Linked DNA regions of Homo sapiens. The protein of the gene in region 1 purifies or fractionates together with the protein of each later gene. This does not show direct contact. Each region holds a gene or a part of one and is shown on either strand. Other genes may lie near its edges.

Region 1 (3,555 bases):
ATCAGAACAAGAAGTGGAAAAAAGCAACTGAGAAAAATGAAGACAAATTAAATACTAGTAAAAAAAAACTAGGTCAGGGAGAATTCTAAGTTTTGGGTCCAAAAATTAAAAAACAAAAAACAAAAACTCGGTAGCAGGGAACATCTGTAGGGTTGTGCTATAAAAAGATCTACTTCTGGCTGTATGTATGGCAAATGAGTGTTCTGAAAAATCCTCCTTCTACCAAAAAGCCTACATACAGTGAACTGCAAACGGAACTAGTAAGCTAGCCTGTAACCACAGCTACCCTAAAGATATCTGCCAAGATGAGGAACTACAGTCAACTTATAGATATCTGCCAATATCAGAAAGAAGAGCCTTAAATTTTTTTATTCTGGAGTTGGGGTCTCACTATGTTGCCTAGCCTGGACTTAAACTCCTGGGTTCAAGCGATCTTCCTGCCTCAGCCTCCCAAATAGCTGGTACTACAGACACACGCCACCACACCTGGCTGTTGGATTTTGACGGCACCCCGAGGGACAGAAGACAACGCCTTAGGCCCATATAAGGTGGGGAGACAGATTCTAGACATTGCAGAGTAACCCGAACAGACTAACCTATCCTCAGTTAGCAACTATAAAACCTAGACAAAACAAAAAAAATAGGTATTTGAAGGTGTGGAAGAGTGACCAAAAGTAAGTATGAACTGGATGAAGTCTATATGTGAAAAGAGATTTGCTGGAGGGCAACTTCCCAAACAGCATGGCTCATGAAGGCAGAAAGCCACAGGCTTACTGGCTTGAGGAATTAGTGCAAAGTGGGCAGAACAGCTAGGAAATTAGGGGGGAAATCTTGGAAGAGAAGGAACTACAAAAGAGATGAACCTCAAAATCTACATACAAACCCTAGTCAAATCCTTGGCTAACTGTTAAATGACACATGTGCAGAGAAAATACCATCAGGCCAATTAAAAAAATGGCAGCTAGAAACTAAAAGAACTGAGCAAAGATTGTAGCTGCCGTCCACTGCAAAGGAGACAGTTTGGAGTTCAGCTATGTTAACTACCTGCTAGAATAAAAACTAACACACTTAAGAGGAATACAGTGTAACAGAACTCAAAGTCTCTACAGTGTATCATTCATGATGCGTAGTAACAATTTTAAAAAGTGACCAGACAGGTAAATAAACAGGAAAATGTAATACACACTGAAGAAAAAGCTGTCAATAGAAACCAATCCTGTGGTGAATCCAATGTTGCAATTAGCAGACAGGACTTCAAAGCACTAATTACATATCATAAATATTTTCAAGAAGAGGAAAATGTCTCATAATGAACAGATGGGAAATCTCAGCAGAGAAATGTAAGCTATTAAATGGAAATTTTAGAGTTGAAAAACAAAATAAACCAGCTAAAACAAAAAATCCACAATTGATAGTAACTGATAGAAAAATACAAACACAAAAAACCCAGAATACAGGCGATCTAAGATCTAAACACCTTGACCTCACTGACTTTTATAAAACACTACCTTATATAGCTACAGAATATACGTTCTCTTCAAGTGCAAAGGAAACATTCAGAAGATAGACTATCCACTGGGCCATAAAACACACCTTAACAAATTTCATTTTTATTATTGTTTTTTGATACATGGTCTCACTCTGTCATCCAGGCTGGAGTGCAGTGGTGCAATCACAGCACATTGCAGCCTCGACCTCCCTGGGCTCAGTGATCCTCCCACCTCAGCCTCCACAGTAGCTGGGACTATAGGCGTGTGCCACCATGCCCGACTAATTTTTGTATTTTTTTGTAGAGACAGGGTTTTGCCATGTTGCCCAGGCTGGTCTCAAACTCCTAGGCTCAAGCAATCCGTCTGCCTTGGGCTCCCAAAATGTTGGGATTACAGGCATGAGCCACTGTGCCTGGCCAACAAATTTCAAAAGATCAAAATATTACAGTATATTATCTGACCAAAATGGAATTAAATTATAAGTAAATAGCAGTAAGATATCTAGAAAAGTCCAAATATTTGGAATTAATGCACTCCTAAATAACCCATGGAGCAAAGAATAAACCAAAAGGATAATTAGAAAATATTTTGAACAAAATCCAACATACATTCCTGAAAACAAAACTCTCAGCAAAACAGGAATAGAAGGGAACTTTAACTCCATAAAGGATATCTACAAAAAACCTATACAGCTACAACACATTTAATAAATGTGTTGTAAAAACTAAATGTTTTCTTCCTGAGATTAGGAACAAAGCAAAGATGTCTGCTCTCACTACTTCTATTCAACATCTGCACTGAAGTGCTAGCTAATGCAACAGGGCAAGGAAAAGAAACAAAAAGCATCTAGATTGTAAAGTAAGAAATTAAACTGTATGCAAAGATGGAAGACCCTCTAGGTACAAAATCTGATGGAATCTATAAAAAGCTATTGTACAAAGTGAGCTTTACCTGAAGGAAAACAACTGACAATACAGTGTAACAGAACTCAAAGTCTCTACAGTATATCATTCATGATGTCCAGTAACAATTTAAAAAAGTGACCAGACAGGTAAATAAACAGGAAAATGTAATACACACTGAAGAAAAAGCTGCCAATATAGAAACCAATCCTGTGGTGAATCCAATGTTGCAATTAACAGACAGGAAGGACTTCAAAGCACCAATTACATATCACAAATATTTTCAAGAAGAGGAAAATATCTCATAATGAACAGATGGGAAATCTCAGCAGAGAAATTAAGCTATTAAATGGAAATAGCTCAAGCAATGGAAATGCCAGTGATAACATTTAAACTTTCAAGTGTAAATTAGAATTCTGAAAAACTGTGAACTCTTTAACTTCCCATTATTTAAAGAGTTTTGTGATAAGACCGGAAGTGATGTTAACAAAAGTGATTTTCTGATATTGTATAGTGGAAATATGTCAACATTTGGAAGGTCTGAACAACTCAGCAAACCAATATTTTACAAATGACCAATGCATGATGTTATAAAATCATGCATGGGTAAAAGATCCACTCAAAGTATTAAAAAAATTAATATAACAGTAAGGAAAGTTCTTTGATCTGGTTTCAGGTTCCACATAGCTCACCTTTAAGAAACCAGCACTTGTTGAGTTTTTGTGTAACATTAAGAAATATAATATGCCTTCTCTTTCTAACTACCTATGTGTGAGGCTAAATTTTCTTTCTATACTTCAACTGAACAAATCACAACAGACAAATACAGAGTCAAGTTACCTATTATTAAGTCAGACATTAATGAGATTTGCAAAAATGTAAATCAATGCCATCCTTCTGTTTTTTCACTTGGAAAATGTAATTATTTTTCATTTAAATATACAGTAATTATGTTAACATAATTAGTTTATTTTTTTTTGAATGAATAAATACTTTTTAAATGTCTGAGTTTTAATTTATAATATGGTAAATATCAATATATATAATCCACATCAACAAAAGCTTTTTGAGGTCATCAGTAATTTTTAAGAGCGTAGGCCAGGCACGGTGGCTCAAGCGTGTAATCCCAGCACTTTGGGAAATCGAGGCAGACAATCATATGA
Region 2 (3,555 bases), on another chromosome or scaffold:
CAAAAGTACTCAAAGAAACAAATTAATGTGAAGAAAAGAATATAGAAGGGGCAGCAGGGAATGGGAAAGAGACTGTAACAAGTGGTGCTACACACCTGTGATGTCAGAAAAAAGGTTAGTTGAGAGAAGTGAAGACCTGACTGCTTGACACTGGAATTATTTTTTTTTAGGTAGGGTCTTGCTCTGTCATCCAAGTGGGAGTGCAGTGGTGCAATCCTGACTCACTGCAGCCCCGACCTTCTGGGCTCAAGCGAGAAGAGGTCACTCTATGTTGCCAGGCTGGTCTCGAACTCCTGGGCTAAAGCAATCCACCCATCTCACCCTCCCAAAGTAATGGAATTACAGGTATGGCCACCATGCGCAGCACTCTCCCCTTTTTAAATAACTGCTATATCGAGATGTAATTCACAAACCATGTTACACTTTTTTTATTTTATTTTATTTTTTTGAGACAGGGTCTTGCTCTGTTTCCCAGGCTGGAGTGCAGTGACGCAATCACGGCTCACTGCAGCCTCAAATTCCTGGGTTCAAGGAATCCTCTCTCCTTGGCCTCCCAAAGTGCTGGGATTACAGGTATGAGCCACCAAGCCAGGTCTCCGTGTTACTCTTTTTAAGTGTTTAACTCAGTGTTTTACTGTATATTCATTAAGTTGTGCAACTATCCCCACTATTTAGAGTATTTTCATCATATCAGAAAGAAACCCTGTACCCATTAGCAGTTACTCCCCATTCCTCCCTTTTCCTTTCCCTTGGCAACCATTAGTCTACTTTCTATGTCTACGGGTTCTATTCTGGATACTTCATACAATATGTGGTCTGTTGTGCCTGGTTTCTCTCAGATTAATTTTTTTCTTTTTCTGAGACAGGGTCTGGCTCAGACGCCCAGCAGGCTGGAGTGCAGTGGCGAGATCTCAGCTCAGCAACCTCCACCTCCTGGGCTCAAGCAATCCTCCCACGTTAGCCTCCTGAGTAGCTGGGAATACAGGTGCACGTGATTACACACGGCTAAACTTTTTTTTTTTTTTTTTAGATGGAGTTTCGCAATTGTTGTCCAGGCTGGAGTGCAATGGCGTGATCTCGGCTCACTGCAACCTCCGCCTCCCAGGTTCAAGTGATTCTCTTGCCTCAGCCTCCCTAGCAGCTGGGATTACAGGTGCGTGCCACCACATCTGTTAATTTTTCTGTTTTTAGCACAGATGGGGTTTCACTATGTTGGCTAGGCTGGTCTCAAACTCCTGACCTCAGGTGATCCACCCGCCTCAGCCTCCCAAACTGCTGGGATTACAGGCATGAGCCACCATGCCTGGACTAATTTTTGTATTTTTTTAGAGACAGGGTTTCACCACATTGCCCAGCTTGGTTTCAAATTCCCCAACTCAAGTGATCTGTCTGCCTCAGCCTCCCAAAGTGCTGGGATTACAGGTGTGAGCCACCTTGCCCAGACCTAGCTTATATTTTCAAGATTCACCTTGGAATTGTGGCTTGAGGAGCAAAAAAAAATGAGCAGAATTTTAGTGGCTCTCTAGCATATGCAAACATTTTACAAATTTGATGCCAAAAGCTGGCTACGAAAAAATACTTATGCCTACTAACCAAATAAGTGAGCTTAGGCAGAGGCCAAAGGAGGGTCATGGAGAACATTTCACTAAAGGGTAAAAGGGAATGAATGGGTTTATTCTGAGGAAATGGAAGATGATATTGTTAAACAATGAACGAATATGTCCAACCTTCTACTGTAAATCTAATATTTTGGTTTTTATTTTTGTCGTTTTTAAAAATTTAATTTTAAAATAGAGACAAGGGCTAGGCACGGTGGCTCACCAGTAATCCCAGCACTTTGGGAGGCCAAGGTGGGCAAGATCATTTGAGGTCAGAAGTTCGAGACCAGCCTGACCAACATGGTGAAACGCTGTCTCTACCAAAAATGCAAAATAATTACTCGTGCGTGGTGGCGGTCACCTGTAGTCCCAGCTACTTGAGGCTGAGGCAGGAGAATCGCTTGAACCCAGGAGGCAGAGGTTGCAGTGAGCCAAGACTGCACCACTGCACTCCAGCTGGGGCAACATAGTGAGACTCCATCTCAAAAACTAAACTAAACTAAACTAAAATAACAAAACAAAACAAAATAAAATAAAATACAGATAAGGTCTTACTATGTTGCCCAGACTGGTCTTGAACTCCTGGCCTCAAGCAATTCTCCTGCCTCGGCCTCCCAAAGTGTTGGGATTACAGGCGTGAGCCATCATGCCGAACCTAATCTAATATTTGAATCTCTATTACATGCAGCCAAACTGATATCTAAATTAACACAATTCCCAAACTTCTGTCTCCAGCCCAGACCTCTCTTCTGAGCTCTTATACTCAATTCTACACTGGATACCTCAACCTAAGATGTCCTCTAGTTGCCTCGGACACAAGTCCAAAACGGAATTTGACCATCTTTCCCCACAAACCCATTTCTCCTCCAGTGTTCCCATCATTCATCCTAGTGCTCATACCAGAAACCTGGAAGTCATCTTTGACCATTCCTGTTGCCCCACATTCAACAAATTACTTTTCTCAAGTACATCCCTCCTCTTTGCTACCTCCATGTTCAAGCCACCATTCTCTCTCTTCATAAAAGCTTTCTAAATCATCACATGTGCCCCATCCAACTCATTCTGCAGGGCACCCTCAATCATCCTTTGGAAATGCAACTCTGGTCATGCCATGTGCCAGCTGCAAACTTTCAACATCTGGCTGGGCACGGTGGCTCACACTTGTAATCCCGGCACTTTGGGAGGCTGAGATGGGGGGGGGATCACCTGAGGTCGCGAGTTCGAGACCAGCCTGACCAACATGGAGGAACCTCGTCTCTACTAAAAATACAAAAAATTAGCTAGGCGTGGTGGTGCATGCCTGTAATCCCAGCTACCTGGGAGTCTGAGGCAGGAGAATCACTTGAACCAGGGAGGTGGAGGTTGCAGTGAGTCAAGATCATGGTGTTGCACTCCAGCCTAGGCAACAAGAGCAAAACTCTGTCTCAGAAACAAAAACAACAACAACAAAAGAACTTTTCAACATCTCCCAGTGCTATTAGAATTGAGCCCAGCTTCCTAATGCCACCTACAAAGCCCTGGCCTGATGTTCTTATCTCATCCCCTACCACTGCCCACTGCTCTCTCTATTCCATCCACACAAGCCTTCTTTCAGTTCCTTCTTTCCCACCCCACAAACCCAACACGGGCTACTCCTCAGGCTGGAACATACTCCCCAACCTCCATCCCATCTCCACTTGACAGACTGAGTCCAATTTATCCTTTGGGTCTCGATTTCCCCAGGGAAGTGACCCACCACAGTCAATTACACTGCCTGTACTTCTTCACATGGCACTGATCATAATTTAATTATTTGGTGATTATTTAATTAATATCCATATCCCCGACTAAGTTGTAGCGCATAAAAGCAGGGATCATATCTGTTTAATTCAAATCGTATCCCCAGTTGCCAAACACAAATTAAATTAATAAGTATTTGTTATGACTATATCTAGTAGCTAATATTTACTGCACAAAG

The links.
Region 2: the proteins of BUD13 (region 1) and DHX8 purify together in Homo sapiens (co-immunoprecipitation; one large-scale study listed by IntAct). This does not show direct contact.

What each region holds. Positions count from the first base shown.
Region 1 is NC_000011.10:116,752,439-116,755,993, forward strand, and holds part of BUD13 (BUD13 homolog), read right to left. Parts: intron 1-3,555. UniProt on the Homo sapiens protein: Involved in pre-mRNA splicing as component of the activated spliceosome. As a component of the minor spliceosome, involved in the splicing of U12-type introns in pre-mRNAs.
Region 2 is NC_000017.11:43,500,970-43,504,524, reverse strand, and holds part of DHX8 (ATP-dependent RNA helicase DHX8), read right to left. Parts: intron 1-3,555.